7 separate regions of the Homo sapiens genome follow, and all the other regions are reported to be linked to region 1. Evidence: microRNA targets listed by miRTarBase, many of them from high-throughput screens and not tested one by one. Region 1 holds a microRNA gene; each other region holds the end of a gene's coding sequence. Distances are from middle to middle.
What was found. The annotated mature microRNA hsa-miR-149-3p reads AGGGAGGGACGGGGGCUGUGC and lies in region 1 at 2,110-2,130, opposite strand. An mRNA with a match to its seed (bases 2 to 7 or 8) in the 3' UTR can be bound and repressed. Matches are read on the target gene's strand: a 7mer-m8 pairs with bases 2 to 8, a 7mer-A1 pairs with bases 2 to 7 and ends in A, and an 8mer does both.

Region 1 (3,077 bases):
GGTGTGCATCGCACTGTGATGAAGGCTGCCGCAATCCTCATTTTATTAACCAGAAAACCGGGGCTTACAGGGATGAGGTCTCGTCCCAGCTATACAGTGAGGGGGCAAGTGGTTCCGGCTGCCTAAGCTCAGGACTCCACACTGACGGGGCCACACTGTTCCTTCTGGGCCTCGTCCCCCGCCTCTAAGGCCCTCCTGGTGCTGGCCTAGGTCAGGCACAGTGGAGAGGTGGAAGCAGGAGCCTGGCTTGGTCAGAGGGGTGGGGTCAAGGGGGGGCGTTGTCAGCAGGAATTCCAGCAACTTTCCTCAGGACTGCCGCCTCAGGGGCCTGTCTCATCCTGTTCTGGGACCCTGGGCCAGGGTGGCTGGAATGCAGCAGGTCCTGCATTCTTTTACGCCCTCCTGAGGGTCAGCAGGAAGTGAAGGCCAGGCCAGGGAGGAGAGGCAGGAGAGGGAGCCAGGACCGGGACCGAGGGCGGGGTCAGCCCGGGCAGAGGCACCTGGCTCGAGGCTGTCCTGGGGGAGCTGGCAGCAGCTCCAGCCCTGCCTGGAGGTGGGAGCAGGGATCTGTAGCCCCACTGCAGGCAGGGCCTGGAGCAGCGCAGGCAGTGCCCTACCCGCTTACTGCAAGAGAAGTCACCCCTCAGGCCTGGGGTCCAGGAAGCCCTTACCCACTAGAGGCCATCTGGGGTGGGGACCCAGGACTAGGTAACTACCCAGAGGTTGAATGCCTGGGTCAGACTGAGTTTGCTGATCTTCCGCACCCTCTAAGTACACACACTCAGGGAGGAGCCCGAGACAAGAGAAGGGAACAGAGAACCCGAATCCGGGCTTGGGCGGCTGCCGCTTGGCCCCTGTAGCCTCTGTGCCTGCTGACATGACAGCAAGGAGACAGGTTGTCAGAGGGGCCTGGGAGAGCGAGGGAGGGCCGAGGTAGGGGTTCTTATCCTGGAGCGCTCCCTCCTTGCCCTCTTTTCCTGTCTGAGTTCTGGAATGTACTGATGCAGGGGGCTCTGGCTTGAGCTAGAGGGGGAGGGAGTCCTCCGCAGGGGCTGCAGGTCCAGGGATTCCCCAGGGCCTGGACTTACATGTGCCCATGCTGCAGACAGAGCGGGAATGGCAAGTGCACCTGCGCCCCCCGCCCCTCCTTACCTCCAGATGCCTGCTGGAGGGGGAGTTGGGGGTCCAACAGAGTCTGGGGCCAGGAGGGCCTTGTGGGAGCCAGCTGGGGTGAGGACAGAGCCCGGCTCTGAGAGCCCTGGGGCCTAGTAGAGAAGGGGTGCTCCTTCCCCACTCCTCACATGGGTGGGAAGGCGCCCTCAGGCAAGAAGACTGGGACACAGGTACACTCGCCAGGGACCATCCTTCACTCTGCAGCCTTTATTCACTGATGGGATTCTGCCCCAGTCCCACCCCCGTGGGGGCAGGATTTAGAGCAGGAACCGCCCCTCCGGGTCCTTTCCTGGGGCCTGTGCCAGGCTGAGCAGACTCAGGAGGCGTCTCTCCGAGGGTGTGGGCTGTGATGGGGCCCTGTGCACCCATCCAGGCTGCCCAGACCAGGAGAGCACAGGTCAGCCGGACACATGATGGTAATGGGCTGGGCAGTGGGAGGGAAACGTGCCTGGGGGAGGGGGTGGCAGGTGCCAGCTGAGCTTCCCGGTGACACACCCTGGGCTCAGCTGAGATGGGCTCAGCTGTGACGGGGCACCCAGGCCAGGCTGGCTGGGCCACAGGAACCGAGTGAGCTGGTCCAAGACTCAGGACTAGGGCTCAAGCACTCCTAGGGAGGAGGGTGGGTGGCGTCCCCCGCCGGCTCCTCCTGTGCCCCTCCCTCGCGAGGTCCCGGCGGACCCACTCCCCAGCCCCCACCACGCAGACGGGAGAGGCTGACGAGAGGCATGGAGAGGTGAGGCCCGAAACACCCGTAAGATATGGGAGCTCCCCCCACCTGCAGGTTCTGAGGGGCTCCTCGGCGCCGTCAGCCACCTCTCACACCCCCTCACGGCCGCGCACCGGCCCCCGCGCCTCAGCCTCCCCCGCCGACCCCTCAGCCCCGCCCGGCCAACTCGCCCAGCCGGCCCGGCGACCTGCGTTGTTCCAGCTGCCCCAGCACAGCCCCCGTCCCTCCCTCCCTCCTCGGACAAGCACGGGAGTGAAGACACGGAGCCAGAGCTCGGGCGCCGGCCTGGGAGCCCCCGGCAGGCTGGACGCAAGGCGGGCGAAGGCCTGGGAGCCTCGGGCAGGCTGGATCGAGGCGGCCCCCTGAGGCCCGCTGCAGGCTGGACGCACGGCAGTCAAAGGCAGGAGGCCTCCCGCTGGCTTCCTTCTGCGGAGCTCCGGCCCGGCGCAGGCCGGGGCCACAGGTTGTGGTCCTGGACATGAGATGGCAGAGGCCGGCTCTGCAGAGTCCCCCTGCAGGGCGGCAAAGCAAGCCCCCTCCTGGAAGAATGCCAGGGGCTGGGGCCTTTCTGAATGGAGAGCAATGTGCCCAAGACCAGCTGTCATCTTAAATCTCCCCACCCAGGGGCCTCCCCACCCCCAGGGGCCTCCCCACCACTTCTCTCAGCTCAACACCTGGGGATAGAGAGGCCTCAGGCCAGGAGGGAACCCTCCCCATGTCCCTCTCCCTCTCCTTCCTGGCCTTTCTCCTCCTCCAACCCAGAGGGAGGCATTTTCCAACCTAGGGGGTGAGTCCCGGCAGCCCATCCCCTTCCCCCCGTGCAGGGAGGCATCTGGGCCCTTCCGGCCCACCCCTCCCTCTGGCCCTGGGGCTGCTCAGGTCAAGGTCACCGGGCCTGCTCCCCGCTGGGCCAGGGACTGGACCCTCTCTTCCCTGATCCCTGGGCTGAAGTTGCTGTAGCCGACCCATCCTTCCACAGCGCTCCCCTCCCTCAGTCACTGGGACACTTCCCTTCCCCAGTGCTCTGAGGATTTTTTTGGGGGGGAAGGGGATTATTTGTTTAATGGCAGATTCATCCCCCACCTCAAACCCAGAGTCTCCAGTTCCCAGGCTCCTGCTCCTCAGGTTAAAGCACAGAGCTCTTGCTCCCTGGCTCGTAGGCAGCTGCTGTCTCGTT
Region 2 (3,077 bases), not on the chromosome of region 1:
ACAGGAGGGGTAGGGAAACCCAAGGTGAGCCGGTGGTGGGGGCTAGGTCTCTGGGGGCTGATGAGAGCCAACTGCTGCTTGGTCAGGGAGGGGGCTGGGAAGGCAAAGGGTTAATGGACTCTGAGATCTGTGGGTCCTGTAAACAGATGCAGTTGCCATAGCAACCAGCTCCATCACTCTGGCTGGAAAAACCCACAAAGGCGGGGGGGGGGGGGCAGCAGACAGACAAACTGCCCGACGGACTAATGGAGGCGGCTGGATGGTGGTGGGGGGGGACATAGAAGATAAAGCAACAAAAATGCCAGAATTCCACCCCCCACCTCACGGGCTGCATGGGAGCAGAGGACGAGGGCAGAGGAGGGGGTCAGAGACCGACTGACATACACACAGACAGGCGGGGGCGGCGGAGGAAGGGGGGCCCCGGGAAGAAAGCCGACCACGGGGGGTGTTAATGGGGGCGAAGCCGACAAGCCGACGGCTGGGGGATAGCAAGTTTCCCCTGGGCTCTGAGACCACCCGCCCTGGGTCCCTCCAGCTCCGCGTGGCCCCTGCCCCCCACCCCGCCCCCAGCCCCAGCCCCAGCCCGGCCTTACGTGCCAGATGACAAAGAAGATGAGGGAGGCGCACAGCACCAGGGTGAGCATGTAGCAGAACGCGGCGAAGGTGAACGCCATGGCCCCCGCGCCGGGCGGCGGCCCGGGGGGCGCCAGCGCGGGGCCCGGGCGCAAGGGGACGCCCCCCGGCCCGCGCTTAGGGCCGGCCGGGCATGGCCCGTGGGGCTCGGGGGACGTGGGTGATGCGGCCGGGACCGGGACCGCGGGGCCGTGGGGGGCGCGGGGCGCGGGCCGGTGGGCTCGGGGGGCGCGTCCGCTGCCGGCTGCCCGGGCCCCGATCGCTCATCCTGCGATCCCTCGCCCGCGGCTCCCTCGCTCTCCAGCCCGCGAAGCCGGCGGGGCGGAGCCGGGGGCGGGGCCGCCGCGCGAGCGGCCTCGGGCGGGGCTGGGTCTCCGCGGGCCCCTCGTCTGCCCGCCCGGCTCGGGCGCCACCCCCAGCCCCGACAAGCCCGCGGCCGTTCACCCTCCGGACAGCGTAGACGCGGCCGCCCCCGGCACCCCGCACCCCTCGGCACTCCAGCCACCGGCACAGCCGCACTCGGCCCCCTCGGGCGGGCGCTCAGGGCAAAGGCTGAAGTGCGAGGCACTTGTCACTGTCGGAGACGGCAGAAGCACCTGGCTGGGACACACAATGACGCCAGGACAGGGGCTGAATGGGAGCAGTGGGGTTTTGGGGGGCGCTGAAGGAGGTTGGGCCAGGTGCAGTGGGGGCCCTCTCAGCGGCTGCGCGACCCCACACCTCTGCCGTGTGCCCCGCGGGAGTTGGCGGCGGCACGCCAGGTATGAGCTGATGGCCGCCTGCCTCTTTCCCTGACAGAACGGTGCTGGGCCCTTGGGGACAGACCACAGAAGCACAAGCAGCTTTCCTGGCCTCAGGAAACGGGGTCAAGGGCTTTTGCCAGCAGCCTTAGGACACAGAAACCAAGCCAGGACCCCCGTGCACCCCACCAAGCCCAGGGTTCCAGTTCCATCCCCCCACCCCAAGGCTGGGCTTAGACCACAGACCACACTTGGCCACCACAACTTCCTTGCAAAAACCCTCAGCTCACCCGAGGGCCAATGGAAATTTATTAATTTTTTTTGTCCTTTTCCATCTTTCCCCAAGTGGCTTTTCCTTGCAAAATGCCTGACATGACACCAGAGGGGAACCTGGGAGCGGGGGGCACCCCAAGGGGGCAGCCCAGGGACTTAAATACAAGCTGGAGGGCAGGGCACAGGTGGGACAGGCAAGAGACAGCACGAGGGACATGGCTTCTCAGGGAGACCAAAGACTTGCTTTCTTGCAGGAAGCAGCTGTGCCAGAGGGCAGGGGACTAGGATCCTGGGTGCAGAGTGGGTGAGCAGAGAGGCCCCCAATCCTGGATGGAACCCACATTCCCCAGAGAAGTAGCGGCAGGGGATGAGGGCCTTCCCTGGTGGGCTCCAGAGACGGAGTGGGGAGTGAGCCAGATGTGCTACCTTGGGGAAAGGGAGGAGGTGCTAGCAGAGTGAGGGTTAAGGCTGGTGCCCAGCCTCTGGCACGGTGGGCCTTCCGCCTCCGCCTGACATGGGGACAAAGGGGCACGGTGGGCAGGCAGCGCATGGGTCTGTCTCTGGCAGGGCAGAGGGCGGCAGGAGCAGACTCCCTCCAGGCTCAAGACACAGGCCCAGCACTGCTACCCGCCCACCCGCCCTAGATATACTCAGATCCCACCGCAGCTGGACGGCTCGAGCTGGGAGTGTAGGAAGGGAGAGGAGGCAGTGGGGAGAGGAAAGGGTGGGCTGCTGGGCCCCTGTGGCCTCCATGCCTGTCCTGAGGTCCAGCCCAGGGCCCTGGATCCCAGGTCCTGGATCCCCTGGCCACATTCCTCGCCCTGGGCACTGACTGCAGCCAGGGCAGTAGAGGCCGGGGAGACCCTCAGTTCTTGGGCAGGACAGCAGGAAGAAGAAGGAGAGAACCCAGTGCAGCATACATGGGGGTGGGAGGGACACCGACAGAAGAGCCCTCGTTCCAAAGAAAGGTGTGTAGGGGGGCATCTTGGAAAGTCACCTAGAGGCAACAGCACAGCAGGCCTCCGCCCTGCCTGGCCACAGGCCCTGAGTGTCCTCCCTTAGGGACCCTGACAGAACCGGGGCTCAGGGCAGCAGGCAGATGGGCCAGAAGGAGATGGGGAGCCCAGGACACCCCAAAGCCACAGACTCAAATGCCCCAGGAGAGGGAGAGGGAGGTACCTCCTGCCCCCTCCAGGGACATCATCTGGAGAAGGTGCCCCCTCCTGTCCCACTCCATGTGCCCCTCCTAGCAACAGCCACCGCCAGCCGGCTTTACAGGGGTGCTGTCGATCTTGAGATTGGGCCGCTCGCCCCCAGAGGCTGCTCCAGGCCCCATCCGCTTTTTGATTTCAGCAGCCATGGTCATGAACGCCTGCTCGACATTGGTGGCATTCTTGGCGCTCGTCTCCAAGAAGGGGATGCCCAGAGAGT
Region 3 (3,077 bases), not on the chromosome of region 1:
TTCCACTTGCCTTAAAATTAATTTTTTCGATTATTTGACTTGAAGTCCAATTAAGGACTACACCTTGTGATTGTTTTTTCCCTAGCAATTTATTTTTTGAAGAATGAACTTTATTTTTATTGGATCTACTTAAAACATTTTTGTGTCACCTAGTAGCAGGGGATTTTGAATACATGTCATGTGTGTTTATAAAGCCAGCTCTCCATATCCCCCAGTGTCTCCAGGAGCTGCTTTTGTGACCTCACTGCCTGATCTCTTTATCATCTTCAGGTGCTTGACCCTTGCACAGAGAGAAGCTTCCTGGGCTACAGGGCATGGCAGCCTGTCCTTTCGGGGAGTGAGATTAGATTTAGTCCCTGCACTTTGCCTCTCTAGAAGCAGCTTCTCGCCTTTCCCTCCCGAGGGCTGGCAGGAGTCACTGTCACCCTTCATGGGGTCTGAAAGGTTGCATAGGCTCACCTGGTCTTAGACAAGGACAGTTGCAGCTTCCGCACCAGGCAGACCTGCAGTTTGAGTGGCTGGGGATAGGTGGAGCGGCGGCCTGGCCACAGTGCCCTGGACAGCAGCACATCACATCAGTTAACACTGTTTGCCTTCCAACTAGTTATTACGGTGTCCTGTGGGACAATTAGACTGGAGGAGCCAAAGGAATGTGCAGGGGCACTGGGTTTCTGTTTGGAGAGAGGCTCTCGGTAAACAGAGTTCGCATTCCTCCAGATTCTGTGGGACCAGAGTAAATATCATTATGCCACAGCCAGGCTTAAGCAATCTATCTGCAGTGCCGTTCCCGCAGCGCACACTGCTCCCTCTGTCTCTGCTGATGACCTTCGAGGCTGTCCTAGGCAGGTTCTCCCTGAGGAGCTCCCCACACCAAGCCTCCCTAACTCTGCAAAGCAGCCGGAGCAACAGAGAGCAGCGGGCGGCGGGCGGCGGCCGCCGCAGTCCTCCCGGCTTTCTAGGTGCGCGGGGCTGTCGTGTTCCAGTCCCTGTGTTCCCCGTCGCTGGAGTGCAGCTTAAGTGCGAATCATTTCTTGGAAAGTTTAGAGATAATTTTGTCAACTACCCACAATATGTATGTGTGGACTAGATTACTTTCTTATTTCAGGATCTAAAGGCAAAATGGAAAAACGTCACATTTTGTGGTTATTACCAGGGACTGAAGTGAGTTGCCCGGTGGCCCCTGGTGGCTTTAGCTCCCCTGGTCACCTGAAGGGCTGCAGTGACCCCTCCTGGCCAGCAGAGGTATTGGCCCAGCCAGGCTGGGGGAGGCTGAAACTGCTTCCCTTCTCTGCAGCCACAAAGGGCTGGATTCCTTGGGCGCCAGGAGGGGAGGATTTTTCTTTTCCCTCCGATAGCCCTACTGGGCGCTAAGATTGTTGTGAATCATTACCCTCAGAATTTGGACTTTCTAGATGCTTCTTAACCCATGATTTAGGTGAGTAAACTTGGAAAAATGTTTTTGCAAAACTTGATGATCAAGCTGAACGTAGAACGATATTCCTAATGGGTGTGTTTGCCTTTTTTCCCCCTTTTGAGACAGGGTCTCACTCTGTCACCCAGGCTGGAGTGAGTGGCATGATCATGCCTCGCTGCGTACTTGACCTCATGGGCTCAAGCGACCCTCCTGCCTCAGCCTCCTGAGTAGCTGGGACCACAGGCACATACAACATTCCCAGCTAATTTTTTGTATTTTTGATTGATAGAGATGGTTTTGCCACGTTGCCCAGGCTGGTCTTAAACTCCTGGGCTCAAGTAAGATTGCCGTCCTGGGATTAGAGGCGTGAGCTGCTGCAGCGGCCTGCTTTTCTTTGAAGCCTGAGAAATGTTGAGGGCCGGGCACAGTGGTTGACACCTGTAATCCTGGCGCTTTGGGAGGCCGAGGTTGGTGAATCACCTGAGGTTAGAAGTTTGAGACCAGCCTGGCCAACATGGTGAAACCCCATCTCTACTAAAAATAAAAAAATTAGCTGCGTGTGGTGGTGGGTGCCTGTAACCCCAGCTACTTGGGAGGTTGAGGCAGGAGAATCGCTTGAGCCCAGGAGGTGGAGGTTGCAACGTGAGCCGAGATTGCGTCATTGCACTCCAGCCTGGGCGACAAGAGTGAAACTCTCACTCTCCCTCGAAAAAAAAAAAAAATGTTGATCCTGTCTTGGTCCCCCTGGGATCCGTCTTTTCTGACGTTTGCCGCTGTCTCCCCTCATCCCCCAGGTTGCTAGTTAATTCTCTCCCCTCGTGCCTGCACCCTGCTGCCCTAGCTAGCCTGGCCACCTCACTGCCGTGTCCTGCATCAGCCCAGCCACAGAGTCCTACAGGTCCGGGGCTTGCTTGTGGGAACGGCTTGTTCTTCTAGACTCTGGGGGCGGGGGCTTGGGTGTGTTTCCTTACTTGTAAAAGGTCCTGTTGTTTTTGGGAGCAGGGAGTAATGGCGGATGAGACGCTGTGTGGAGGCGGCAGCTCCTGGTATGGGGTAACGCCCTGTCCCCTCATTGGCAGGTGGTTTGCATGAAGCATCAGGCCAGAGGGTGTGAGTGCCAAGCCCTCACCCCACATGCTGCTCCTGTTAAAAGCAAACTCCACTGACCCCCCCGGGAAGTCAGGATTTGGGATTTACTTCCTGGAATGCTTGCCTCTGGCTGCTGGGAATTGGGGCCTTTCCCCAAAGCCTGAACCAGGCCTCACAGTGGCCATCAGGCACAGAATGGATGGGCACAGCTGAGTGGCTCCACTGGCTTTAATCTGCCCCACCTCTTCCACACCAACCTCCACCCTCTGGTTCCGATGTGCTTGGTTACAAAGCACCTGATTATTTAAGAGAACGAAAAACCACCACCAGTTCCTGTAAAGAATAAGTCACAGGTGCACAGGTGAAGGGCTGAGTTGTGGTCCAGCCCCAGGGAGTGTGGGCTGTGAGGCAGGAGCGAGCTAAACCTGTAGGAGCAGCGCCACGGCTGCCAGGATCCACTTCGCTGCCTTCTCTTTGGTCTTCAAGTTAAAGGTCCAGACATAGGTGGGGCCGCGGATGCGTGTTTTGTACACGGGACACTCATAGATGTTCTTGGTCTCCATGCGGTCCACAG
Region 4 (3,077 bases), not on the chromosome of region 1:
GCTTGGGGGGGAAAAAGGAAAGGAAATCAATTAATTAATTAAATTTAATAATAAAGGCCGGGCGCGGTGGGTCACGTGTGTGATCCCAGCATTTTGGGAAGCAGAGGCGGGCAGATCGCTTGAGCCCAGGAGTTCGAGATCAGCCTGGGCAACACAGCAAGTCCCCGCCCGCCTCAAGAAAAAAGAAAATTAGCTGGGCATGGTGGCTCTAATTTGTAGTCCCAGCTACTCAGGAGGCTGAGGTGGGAGAATCACTTGGGGCTGCACTCCAGCGTGGGTGACAGTGAGACCCCATTTGTTAGAAAAGTTGGCCGGCGCGCTGGCTCACGCCTGTTAACCCCAGCACTTTGGGAGGCCGAGGCAGGCGGATCACGAGGTCAGGAGTTCTAAACCAGCCTGGCCAACATAGTAAAACTCCCGTCTCTACCAAAAATACAAAAATTAGCCGGGTGTGGTAACATGCTCCTGTAGTCCCAGCTACTAGGGAGGCTGAGATGGGAGAATCGCTTGAACCCGGGAGGCGGAGGTTGCAGTGCGCCGAGACCACATCATTGAACTCCAGCCTGGGTGACAGAGTGAGACTCTGTCTCAAAAAAAAAAAAAAGTTGTGGTCATAAAACTTGGTTCAGATGCCGTCAGCGGCATGCCTTGCCTAGGGTCTTGCCCTCCTTGTGGCCTCTGCACACCCTGCCTAGTCTTTCCTTCCCTCCTGACCTTTCTGAATCTGATTCATCCTTTTGCCCCAAGCAGAATCCCACCTTCTCCAGGAAGGTGTTAGCCTTTGTAGGACCCACTCTGGGACACTGGTACCTGCTGCCTGTAGCCGTGGCCTTTCCCCTTCCAGAGGGCAGGGCGGTCTCAGCACCCTCTTGGTCCACAGCTGATCTTTTTTAGCTGCTGAAGGGTCTGGGGCTGTGCCCTGGGGAAGCCATGACACTCCCCTGCGTAGGGTCACTGGGTGGCTCCTGCAGCCAGACTTGGACACCCTCCCTTTGCAGATTTCTGTCTCCTCCCCAGGAACCAGCTGCCTTCCTTCTGGGGCGAATTCATTCTTATCCCACAGCCCCAGCATAATGGGATCTGGCTCAGGGAGGCCTTTCCTGATCTGCCCTAGGTTTGCCTTCCCTGTGAGCAGCCCTTACTGTCCTCTGCCTTCCCCGTTGAGCTGCAGGGTGACCATGGTCAAGCAGGAGCCTCAGTGGGAAGGTGCTGAGGAAGGTTCATGTGAGAAGTGGCTGTGGGAGCCCTCAAGAGATGGAAGTTAGGCCAGGCGCGGTGGCTCACGCCTGTAATCCCAACACTTCGGGAGGCAGAGGTGGGCGGATCACTTGAGGTCAGGAGTTTGAGACCAGCCTGGCCAACATGGCGAAACCCCGTCTCTACTAAAAATACAAAAATTAGCTGGGCTTGTGGCAGGCGCCTGTAATCCCAGCTACTCGGGAGGCTGAGGCAAGAGAATCACTTGAACCCAGGAGGCAGAGGTTATAGTGAGCCGTGATCGCGCCATTGTACTCTAGCCTGGGCAACAAGAGCGAAACTCTGTCTCAAAAAAAAAAAAGAAGTGAGAAGTCTGTGGCTGGCCTACTGAGTGTCCGCACATACACCCCTTACCCCACCTGACTGGTCTTCACAATCAATGCTCCCCAACAGCCAGCGGTCCTGGGAGTCCAACCTCCCAGAAGGATCACCCACTCCCACCACTCTCAAGGTCAGAGCCTGGCCTTTGGGGGAAAGGGCAGTGCTGTCTCCAGGGCCTCTGCACCCAGGGACAGTGTCTGTCCCACCCCTGGAGTGCCAACAGAGTTGGGAGACTCAGCACTGACTTCACCCCAAAATCCAAGTAAGCTGGGTATTGCTTAAAATCAGGGGCCAGGCGTGGTGGCTCACACCTGTAATCCCAACACTTTGGGAGGCCAAGGCGGGCGGATCACCTGAGGTCAGGAATTTGAGACCAGCCTGGCCATCTCTACAAAAAAAAAAAAAAATTAGCGGGTATGGTGGTGCACACCCGTAGTCCCAGCTACTCGGGAGGCTGAGGCAGAATTGCTTGAGCCCAGGAGGCAGAGGTTGCAGTGACCTGAGATCGTGCCGTTGCGTTCCAGCCTGGGTGACAAGCGCGAAAACTCTGGCTCCTGCAGCCAGATTTCTATCTCCTCCCCAGGAACCAGCTGCCTTCCTTCTGGAGCTAACTCATTCTCATCCCACAGCCCCAGCATAATGGTTTCTGGCTCAGGGAGGCCTTTCCTGATCTGCCCTAGGTCTGCCTTCCCTGTAAGCAGCCCTCACTGTCCTTTGCCTTCCCCGTTGAGCTACAGGGTGACCAAGGTCAAGCAGAGGCCTCAGTGGGAAGGTCTAAAAAATAAAAATAAAATCAGGCCAGGTGTGGTGGCTCATGCCTGTAATCCCAGCACTTTGGGAGGTCAAGGCAGGAGGATCGCTTGAGGCCAGGAGTTCAAGATCAGCCTGGGAAACATGGTGAGACTCTGTCTCTATTTTTTTATTTTTTAAAGTAAAACTAGAAGTGATACCTGAGCTCTACGTATTTGTCATAAATTAGGTCACATTCTCCCTGGAGGAAATCCAAGGAGGCAAAGTAGTCGGGTGGCCGTGAGGGTGCAGTGTCACAGGTAAGGCTGGTCCGAGGACAGCTCCCACCTCTTTATGGGAGGAGCTGGAGTCACCGCCTTCTTCTCAGTGGCAGCTACAGCAGAGCTGGAGGAGGGAAAGACTTCAGTGAGGGTTTCCAAAGAACAGTGTGGAAAGATCTGAGGGAGCCCACACCTGCCCCGGGACAAACACACCCACAGGGACTTTCTGGACCTGCAGGACAGACAGCAGGGTGTTCCAGAATGCCAACCCCTCCAACGCAGCCCCTCAGAGGATCAGCCAACGCCAGGTGGGAGCTAGCAAGCCTCCTCTCTCCCCTGAGCCCTGTATGAACCCCCTGCTGTGGCCCCCAGGCCCAGAACCCACTGTGGAGAGCTGGGCTCCTCCCTTCCCACTTTTGGTCTCCAGCGTACACAAGGCCCCCACCCCCATTCCTGCTGCCCCTCAAAACAGGATGCTGGCAAAAGGGC
Region 5 (3,077 bases), not on the chromosome of region 1:
CTGACTGCCATCATCACAATTCTGTGGTCTAATCTGATTCATTTGTGTTTAGGTATGGTATTCCACACCATAAAATCTGTTCTCCTGACATCATCAACTACCTGCCCTCTTCTTTCTCCACAGTGAAGAAGAGTAAAAAAGTATTCCTACTCAATCAGTACTTTGGGCCTCCTAATCCCCATCCTCTGAAAGGAGGAAGGTCAGTGGGAAAATGGTTCTCACTGGAAATAAATAACAACAGTTGGTTTGGAATACCATGAATTATAATTCTGTAAAAACTCAGACATGCTGATCTTCTAACTTCTAAACTAGGTTATTTCACAATAATTAGCTTCTATCCCCAGTAAGGAATTAGTGCATAAAGCAACTAAAAATTTATTTCTATACAATTTTTTTTTTTTTTTTTGAGACAGAGTCTCACTCTGTCGCCCAGGCTGGAGTGCAGTGGCACAATCTCGGCTCACTGCAACCTCCGCCTCCTGGGTTCAGGCAATTCTCCTGCCACAGCCTCCCGAGTAGCGGGGATTACAGGCGTGCACATGCCACCACGCCCAGCTAATTTTGTATTTTTAGTAGAGATGGGATTTCTCCATATTGGTCAGGCTGGTCTCAAACTCCTGACCTCAAGTGATCCACCCACATCGGCCTCACAAAGTGCTGGGATTACAGGCATGAGCCACCATGCCCAGCATTTCTAAATAATTTTGTGGAATGTAAGACATGTAAATATAAAGAAGACCAAAAATTAGAAGAGGTCAGAGTAATGAAATTTCATTGGAAACCTTTCCTCAATGAATACACAGTCATTGCAAAAACAACACCTCAACCTTTACTGAAAGTGAAAGTTAGCAAAAACTAGTGAATCAATTCCATCCTGCTATTAAAAAGGCCAGATTCATTGTCAAAGGGATAAATTCTGGGTCTTACATTCTTTTTCCACCATCTGCTCTTTTTTAAATAACTTTTTCCTAAATATGGTAGATCATGGCTCCCCTTAACTTTCAACCGACAAAGCAGCCATACCTACCTCTTTCTAAGATGAAATTGTGACACTGATCTCACAGGTGCCTATGCCATGTAAACAGCAGGAATGTCACCTTGGGTAGGCCCAGGGTATGGAACGTAATAGAGAGCCCTGTGTATAGGACAGGGTCACTCCTTAGCTGATACTTCTAAGGACCCATCACAGGCAAGTGGAATTTCTCTATCCTGACTTCATTCCCAGGTCAATGCTGACATATAGAGTTCTAAATCTAGATAATTTGTAATTAGTGAAGTTGAAAATATACCATAATTTCAGCAAAAAAAAAGGGGTCTTGTACTAGATAGTACTAATGGGTTAAGCGAGTTAAATTAATTAGGCTTTTAAGGATCTCAGCCTTATTTCTTCTATCACTCATTCCTTATCTTCAAACTGAGTCTTTGGTGGATGTAATATAATCTCATCTTAGGTATATATGAGCACAGAACGGCCATTAAAATCCATCACAGACCAAAAGAAGAGACTGATTTTAGGTCAGTCCTTTTTCATTTTGTAACAACAGTAATTCTACTTATAGAAAACAGACTCTCAAATCTCAAAAGTTTAAAGTTTCATTAGAAAAATCATAAAAATAAGAAAAGTATTCATCAAGAATGATAATAGTATAATTTCATTATCAAATTCATTTAAAACATGAATTACAGTACAGCAAGAGAAGTGACAGCATAAAGTCTTATATAATTTTAAAAACAAACATCACACCATATGGTTTTAATAAAAGGCAATTGCAGTTCCAATTTCCAAGCTGTATCCTTAAGTTGAGGGTTTTCCGTAGTTGGTTTTACATTAAACTATCTCCATAACAAGTTTAAAGGTGTATGTCATTTCATCACCAAGTATTTTAGTCCCAAAATGTATAAACCAAGCATCTGATAATGAGGTATCTTGTCGCTGCCTCTCTTTTATTTGAGGAATATAAAATTTAAGGTCAATCCAAGTTCAAGTCCACACCACAGTGCTATCTAGCACATGAATATTTGTCCTCCTTTGCTTCTTAGGAAGCGTGATTAGGAGTCATAGCCACAAAATTGAGATTATGATGATAAACTTTTTTTTTTTTTTTAAGTCTGCCTGCTAAGTTCTATCTCTTCTTTCACCCACCCCTGGAATCTCCACCTCCCCTATCAAATTTAGATTTGGGAAGAGTTTTTGTTCAAAGTCTCTTAATTTCTTCAGTATTCAAATTATATCTGAGTTTATTTAAAACTTAAAAAAAAAGAAGAAAAAAGCTTACCTCTTTTTATTGTTTCATCAAGAAAATGTTAAAACCCTGACAAAAGCTTACCATCTTTTCCAACTCTATTCTATCAAGGCCCTGTCAGCACTAGCATGATACCACAGACTGGATCTTTTTCCATTATTTATTCCCAAAAATTAGCAAAATCCTTTGTAATTAGCTGAAGTCTATCAGAATAAATTCAGTCTCTGAAGATGAAGCTACTTGAGTTGTTCCATTCTGTTCACGCACATAACAAAAGGCAGAATCATTCATTTATCCTGAAAAAAACCAGACAGTGTGTGTGACAACTGCAAGCAAGGCTCGCTAAGACATTCTTGCAGCTCAGAGAAATTAAAGCAAAGTGCAAGCTGGAAGTGAGTTCTAAAGTTAAGTCTCCCACTTGAAATTTAATTACAATAAAGAAGGTTAGAGGAGGATGAATAGGTTCAATGTCTTCAACAATTATCGAGGTGGAAAGCCACCTCTGTGTGCTCCTCCACGGCCCCCTCTAAAGCCACCTCTTTCTCCTCGGAAGTTAGATCTATTTCTTTCTCGTCCACGGCCAGCAGAAGTTCCACCTCTTCCTCCACCTCTGGGAGCTCCACCTCCTCGGTCAGATTTAGATTTGGGAGGAGGCGATTTTGGTCGAAGTCTCTCAATTTCTTCTGTACAACCAGTCAAGTAGGAATTAGGAGCACTGAAATAGGATGCATATGTTTCTGCATTGTAGTTGCTATTTGTAAGCGTTGGTCCAACTGTGAGCCAGCCTGAAATGGAGGAAAAAAAGATTATACTTTTTATTTGCAATTCTCTCTT
Region 6 (3,077 bases), not on the chromosome of region 1:
TGAGTACACGCACCCTTCATCCCCCAGACCCGCAGTTCCTGGTCACCTTCTTCTCCCGCCTGAGACCCAACCGCAGCGGGCGCTACGAGGCCGCTTTCCCCTTCCTCTCGCCCTGCGGCAGAGAGCGCAACTTCCTGCGCTGCGAGGACCGGCCGGTGGTCTTCACGCACCTGCTGACCGCGGACCACGGGCCTCCGCGCCTCTCCTACTGCGGCGGTGGCGAGGCCCTGGCCGTGCCCTTCGAGCCGGCGCGCCTGCTGCCCCTGGCCGCCAACGGGCGCCTGTACCACCCGGCGCCGGAGCGTGCGGGCGGCGTGGGCCTGGTGCGCTCCGCCCTGGCCTTCGAGCTCAGCGCCTGCTTCGAGTACGGGCCCGGCGCGCCTGCGCTGCCCTCGCACGTGCGCTGGCAGGGCCGCCGCCTCGCCCTCACCATGGACCTGGCCCCGCTGCTGCTCGCGGCTCGGTCGCCCTGAGCGGGGCCAAGGGAAAGGCGGGAGGCCGCGGGCGCCTCTCGCCCCGCTCCCCCGGGACTCCACGCCCCGGAAAGCCCGCGCCACCCGCGCTCGCGGCAGCCTAGTGCGCCTGCGCGCTCGGCCCCGCCCCCACCCGGCGCTGTCCTTGGTGCTGCCGCGGCCCGGCCCTCCCGGACACCCCGCTCCCCACGGCGCGCGCCCCCCGCGCACCCGACTCCGGCGCCCTCCGGATTGGCCTGCGCTCGAGACGTCAGGCACTGGCGGCGGGCGCGGGGCTCTGGTGCGCGTGCGCGAGCGTCCCCCGCCCCCTCCCAGCCCGGCGACTGCTCGGGCCCGGCCGCCACCTGCACGGCGGGGGAGCCGCTCGCCGCGGGAGCGTCAGGTGAGGGGACGCCCGACCCAAGGTCACCAGGCGTGGGGGCGCTGGGGGATCGGGGACCATCCCGGCTCTGACCCTGGTGCGCTCCGAGAAGGGCGTGGGTCCTGGAGGGGGATGGGGAACGCGGAGGCCACGCCCTCCCTGAGCCCGGCCGAAAATCAACCGGCTCTCGTGGGTAGCAGAGGAGGCCGTGGGGGATACAGGCACCAGGTCGCAGCGCTGCAGAGGTGCGCAAGGGCCGCCCAAAGACCAGCTTGGGCCTCGCACTGCGCCCGAGGCAGACACAGGGCGTTCCATCCTCTTCCCTCCCCGCTCCCGCACAGAGGGGCGCCCAGGAGGCAGTGACAGTCGTCGCGGAATCCTGCGTGTGACACCCCGCCCCTGCCCAGCGGATTAGGGAGTTGTCCTCTGGTAAAAGGATTTCTGGGCTGCTTCCAGCTTGGGGCCCTCATCCCTGCCCTGGCAGGCCTTTCTACACCGATCTGCATCTAGTGGGGGGTCAGCGTGAGCAGCAGCGCCGTGAGTTCTGAGGCCAAGAACCTTCTCCACTTGAGAAGCCTTCCTGGGGGAGGCTGAGTGGGCCAGGCCTGGAGCCACGTACCAACACTTTATACCCAGGGGAATGGATCCCAAGGGCCCAGATAACGCCCCCAACTTCTTGGGGTTCACACGCGTCCTGAGACATCTGGGAACTGCCTCTGCCTGGGCCAAAGCTATTCCATTAAAACTTTATTGCTGTGCTTACTTATTTCTAGTGACTTTAAATAATCATGTGAGTTACAATTTAGGGCAAGATTTAAACACCAAGGCCACTTGGTCCTGTCCCTTTCCACATGACTCGAAAGGAGGAAGAGCTGATGGACAGGCAAATGTTTGGGGAGGCCGGCCAGATGAGGCTGGGAGACAGGACACCTGCAGCCCTGTTTTCCCTGGCTTCGGGTGGGCTGGCTGGCTTAGCCCAGATCCCTACTTTTAAAACTGGGCTCCTTGTTCCTGAAACCAGACCCCAGCCTTCCCATTTCTTTACGACAAGTACATGTATATGGTCCCCCAGCAAACTCCCTGCTCCTTGCTGATCTCAGAGGTCACACTGCTCCCAGAGCCCACTTGGGAAGCCACACCAGAAACCCAGTTGGTGGCCCAAGGCGTCCCCTGTCCCACCCCAGCTTTCCCAGGGCCCCATCTATCCCCAAAGACAGGACACCTTTCTGGGGACCGGCATGGGAAGCACAGACCCATGGCTCCTGAACCGAATTTCCTATTATTTTTCTCATCCCCCAATTCTCTGACAGGTTACCTGAGAAAAAGGCCCAATTCTAGTTAAGCTGGTCCCACCCCTAGGCCAGCAGGAGCAGGTGCTGGACAAAGCTGTGCCTTGACTTCCCTGGGGCTCGTAGCTCCTCTGAGGCCAGCTCTGCCCAGGCCCCCACAGGATAACAAGGAGGCGTGTCTGCCCAGGGCCTGCTCTCCCCCTCCTAGCCATGCTTGGGTAATGGGACCCCGGGCTTTGTCACCTAAGCAAAGTTCTCAAGCCATACCCTGTACTTCCAGCTTCTTGCACCCTAGAACCAAGCAGCAGCCACTTGCCTGGGGGTAGAGTCGGGGGCAGCAAGCGACACACATCCACGTCCTGAGCAGGAAGCTCCTGACCTGCTGGGCATGGGTGGAGAAGGAGAAGGTGACAGGGTTGGGTGGCTCTCCCTACATGGTCACATCCTGTGAAGACACTGAGGACACCAGGAATTCTAAATTTGAACCTGATGCCCCAGAGCTTTAAGAAAATGTTTTTGTCAAAGGAGAAAACCAGAACGTTTTATTAGTTTCTTGAACCTATTTATAGCGTCAAAAGTTAGACGCAGGTGCAGGCCTCCATTCCATCTATTGGCTGGCTCTCGACTGCCGAGACTGGCCTGCCAACCTGTGTTTCAGGAGGGCACGCGTCTGCGGCTGAACCGCGGAAGGGCCGGTGAGGAACCGGGCCTCGGGAGATGGCCCTGAGGGCCCCCGCACTGCTGCCGCTGCTGCTGCTACTACTGCCGCTCCGCGCCGCCGGCTGCCCAGCAGCCTGCCGCTGCTACAGCGCCACGGTGGAGTGTGGCGCCCTGCGGTTGCGCGTCGTCCCGCTGGGAATCCCGCCAGGGACGCAGGTGGGCACCGTGTGGAGCTGCGGGAGGACGGGGTGCCCCCAGGGAGAGGAAGACCCCCGCAACGGGGTAAGCGCCTCC
Region 7 (3,077 bases), 62 Mb from region 1:
CAGATGAGTACATACAAAAACAAACAAAAGTATACATAGGGGTAACACAACCATGAGATTAGTAAATAATACATATGGCTAGCACATAATTTGACACCTTATAAAACAAGAATCTGTACTATCTTTTCCTTCCTCCCAATATTTCTTCATTTCTATGCTCAATTTTCTAATACTTTTTCACATGCTTAATCATTTACTCTTTCATCGCCTTCCCTCAAAAAAACCTGCTCCGTTGAAGTAAACTAAGTAACTCAATATTCTTTATTTTGGTTTGGAACCTGTCTCAATTTTTTGTATCCATATTAAGAAGTCACCCTATAATCTAAACTTTGTAATTCTAATTTTTTTGTCCCATTATCATACAAAGTGCTTTTAAACTTGTTTTTAAAAAATGACAGATAATGCCACATGAATAGGAAGATGATTCATTCTAAAACTTGTATTTACATAATTAAAAATAAATTTATAATCATTCTACATACAATACAGTGTACAAGTATTTCATATATCTGCATGATTGCCTTATGCCTTCATATGCATATATGTGGCATTGAGTGCTGTGACTACATTTTGAGTTCTAGAATTTTTTTTTTTTTTTTTTTTTGCAGGTGCAAGATTTAATAGAGTGAAATAGAGTGAAAACAGAGCTCCCATACAAGGAGGCGACCCAAAGGGGGTTGCCATTGCTGGCTGGAATGCCTGGATTTATATCCTGATCCTTGTCCCTCCCGCTGTGCTCTCAGGCAATAGATGATTGGCTATTTCTTTACCTCCTGTTTTTGCCTAATTAGCATTTTAGTGAGCTCTCTGATTGGTTGGGTGTGAGCTAAGTTGCAAGCCCCATGTTTAAAGATGGATGTAGTTACCTTCCCAGCTAGGCTTAGGGATTCTTAGTCGGCCTAGGAAATCCAGCTAGTCCTCTCAGTCCCCACTCTCAACAGGAAAACCCAAGTGCTATTGGGGAGGTTGGCCGATGACTGCTCTAACTGCTTCCTGCTGAACTGGGGCATAGGAGGGGTTGTGCAGCTGAGATTTCCTTGGGAGGGGTGCCTTCGATGTCATTAACACCAGAGCATGGGCTGGGAGACCGGTCCGGGGGTCTACGGTGGATCTTAGTCATGGACTGCATCTGGGGCTCCATTTGATGAACCATTTGTAGTTTTACAGTTTCAATTCACCTTGGAGGTCCCTTCGTGGTCGCCAAAGTGTTACCGGGGGTCCTTGCTCCCAGAGCTCCCAAGAAGGTGGTGGGCGACTTCCAAAATGGCGGCAGGCCACTTCCAAGATGGTGGCAAGCCCCGTGTTCTCTGACCTGGGGTTGTTGGCCTCACGGATTCCAAGGAATGGAATCTTGGGCCATGCAGTGAGTGTTACAGCTCTATTAGAAGTCATGGGTCACAGAAAAGAACCGTGGAACCCAGTGACTAGTGTTCAGCTCAATTAGGACGAACCCAGGCACTTAGCCGTGCAGGAACAATGGCAAGCCTTTAGCCTGATCAGGAGCGGCAATGGGCGCCTCACTGGATCAGGAGCACAGCGGACACCCTGCCAGATTCAGAGGGATGGGAGTCAGCAGCGGGTCTGTGACGGTGGCAAACAGCAGTGGTGGACGGCGAGCAAAAGCTCAGCTCGAGCCTTAACAAACATGGACCAGAAGAGTGCAGTTGCAAGATTTAAGACAGTGAAATAAAGTGAAAACAGAGCTCCCATTCAAGGAGGGACCCAAAGGGGGTTGCCTTGAGTTCTAGAATTTTAACATTTTATTCATTTTATAATTATTTTAATAAAGGTAAATAGTAATTTAGGTTGTTTGTGTATGAAAAATTCAGATTTCTCAGCAGAGTAGATTAAAAAGATCTTTCAGAATTGAATATGTTAAATGTTTTAAACATTTTCAAAGAAACAGATGTGTCTTACCTGTCTTAACTTCACAATGACCGTATTGCGTTTTATGAAGACAAAACTCGTGAGCATATCCACATCATAGAATGGCAGCCCATTACTACTATCAGTCACCTTGTTAACTGTGTACACAAAACCCCATGTTGAGTTCAGTGTGCTTTTAATTTGATACTGCAATTAAACATTTAAGATTGCATTAAATTATTAACACATTTTTCTCATTTTACCAGACCAAAGGCAATAGTTGAAACACCAAAAGTTGCTACTTGTGCAGTCTTGTCATCCTTACATATTGAACTGAAAGTTGATTGAAAATAAAATTGGTATTTACAAAAATCTCTTAATTATATAAAAAGTTATCTAGGCCAGGCACGGTGGCCCATGCCTGTAATCCCAGCACTTTGGGAGGCCGAGGAAAGTGGATCACAAGGTCAGGAGTTCAAGATCAGCCTGGCCAAGATGGTAAAACTCTGTCTCTACTAAAAATACAAAAAATTAGCCAGGCGTGGTGGCAGGCGCCAGTAATCCCAGCTACTCGGGAGGCTGAGGCAGAGAATTGCTTGAACCCAGGAGGCAGAGGTTGCAGTGAGCTGAGATCATGCCACTGTACTCCAGCCTGGGTGACGGAGCAAGGCTCTGTCTCAAAAAAAAAAAAAAAAAAGGTGAACTAAAATGATAGACTACATCCCAAAAATGATTCTAAAGTGACTGGCATGATTCATAATCTCTGAATTTTATATGTAAATCTTTTTTGATATAAACAATGTTATTAATTTTCATGACAACTTAAGAAATAGACACTACTGTTATAATTGCTACTTTATAGATAGGGAATATGATACCCAGACAGGTTAATTTCTTTTTGCTTTTCTCATTTTAATTTAATTCATCAAAGCAAACCTAGATAATTTAGGGAAGGTTTGTGGCACAACTGCACCTAAAACACCAACACGGTGTATTCATTTTTCATTTTATTTCATCCTCTTGTGCCAAATATCAAAACAAGGAACTGCATGAAGTCTCACATACTTCTGACCATCAACAGAACACTGAAAGCACCCATAAACTGTCTCCCTTTTGAAGTTCCCCATTCCACAGAGTATGCAAGGCCCTTTGGGAATGTTGTGATTAAGTAAGTTAACTCGGATATGGGTCCCTTCTTTGAGTGAAATATC

Region 2: the mRNA of RAB1B is a reported target of hsa-miR-149-3p. Seed matches in the 3' UTR shown: 8mer at 2,574-2,581.
Region 3: the mRNA of DNAH17 is a reported target of hsa-miR-149-3p. The part of its 3' UTR that is shown has no 7-base or 8-base seed match.
Region 4: miRTarBase lists NDUFA7 as a target of hsa-miR-149-3p. Seed matches in the 3' UTR shown: 7mer-A1 at 2,414-2,420.
Region 5: miRTarBase lists METTL14 as a target of hsa-miR-149-3p. The part of its 3' UTR that is shown has no 7-base or 8-base seed match.
Region 6: miRTarBase lists C8orf82 as a target of hsa-miR-149-3p. Seed matches in the 3' UTR shown: 7mer-m8 at 639-645, 8mer at 780-787, 7mer-m8 at 988-994 and 7mer-m8 at 1,156-1,162.
Region 7: miRTarBase lists PJVK as a target of hsa-miR-149-3p. Seed matches in the 3' UTR shown: 7mer-A1 at 2,305-2,311.

The regions. Positions count from the first base shown.
Region 1 is chr2:240,455,109-240,458,185 of GRCh38, reverse strand. MIR149 (microRNA 149) reads right to left here and starts at 2,185; the gene lies at 2,097-2,185. All of the region lies in intron 1 of GPC1 (glypican 1), which reads right to left. It overlaps GPC1-AS1 (GPC1 antisense RNA 1), which reads left to right and starts at 1,486. Exons shown (of 3, transcript NR_161169.1): 1 at 1,486-1,589. RefSeq lists enhancers at 1-282, 2,235-2,885.
Region 2 is chr11:66,276,054-66,279,130 of GRCh38, reverse strand. It overlaps RAB1B (RAB1B, member RAS oncogene family), which reads right to left. Exons shown (of 6, transcript NM_030981.3): 6 at 1,639-3,077. The coding sequence ends at 2,893. It overlaps CNIH2 (cornichon family AMPA receptor auxiliary protein 2), which reads right to left and starts at 956. Exons shown (of 6, transcript NM_182553.3): 1 at 594-956. The coding sequence starts at 674. It overlaps LOC107984340 (a long non-coding RNA gene), which reads left to right and starts at 606. Exons shown (of 2, transcript XR_001748274.1): 1 at 606-636. RefSeq lists a silencer at 851-1,180.
Region 3 is chr17:78,420,984-78,424,060 of GRCh38, forward strand. DNAH17 (dynein axonemal heavy chain 17) reads right to left here. Exons shown (of 81, transcript NM_173628.4): 81 at 2,714-3,077. The coding sequence ends at 2,923. The region is part of intron 9 of PGS1 (phosphatidylglycerophosphate synthase 1); the gene reads left to right. Among named protein-coding and RNA genes, the nearest start is that of PGS1, 44 kb to the left of the region's middle. RefSeq lists an enhancer at 1,567-2,146.
Region 4 is chr19:8,308,884-8,311,960 of GRCh38, forward strand. It overlaps NDUFA7 (NADH:ubiquinone oxidoreductase subunit A7), which reads right to left. Exons shown (of 4, transcript NM_005001.5): 4 at 2,401-2,712. The coding sequence ends at 2,622. Among named protein-coding and RNA genes, the nearest start is that of CD320, 2.1 kb to the left of the region's middle. RefSeq lists enhancers at 1-303, 3,058-3,077.
Region 5 is chr4:118,709,949-118,713,025 of GRCh38, reverse strand. METTL14 (methyltransferase 14, N6-adenosine-methyltransferase non-catalytic subunit) reads right to left here. Exons shown (of 11, transcript NM_020961.4): 11 at 1-3,028. The coding sequence ends at 2,724. Among named protein-coding and RNA genes, the nearest start is that of METTL14, 26 kb to the right of the region's middle.
Region 6 is chr8:144,524,738-144,527,814 of GRCh38, reverse strand. C8orf82 (chromosome 8 open reading frame 82) reads left to right here. Exons shown (of 3, transcript NM_001001795.2): 3 at 28-2,082. The coding sequence ends at 473. LRRC14 (leucine rich repeat containing 14) reads right to left here. Exons shown (of 4, transcript NM_014665.4): 4 at 2,643-3,077. LRRC24 (leucine rich repeat containing 24) reads left to right here and starts at 782. Exons shown (of 5, transcript NM_001024678.4): 1 at 782-855; 2 at 2,782-2,999. The coding sequence starts at 2,841. RefSeq lists enhancers at 1-55, 913-1,769, 2,502-3,077 and silencers at 598-987, 3,014-3,077.
Region 7 is chr2:178,461,071-178,464,147 of GRCh38, reverse strand. PJVK (pejvakin) reads right to left here. Exons shown (of 7, transcript NM_001042702.5): 7 at 2,046-3,077. The coding sequence ends at 2,874. It overlaps FKBP7 (FKBP prolyl isomerase 7), which reads left to right. Exons shown (of 4, transcript NM_181342.3): 4 at 1-484. Among named protein-coding and RNA genes, the nearest start is that of PJVK, 11 kb to the right of the region's middle.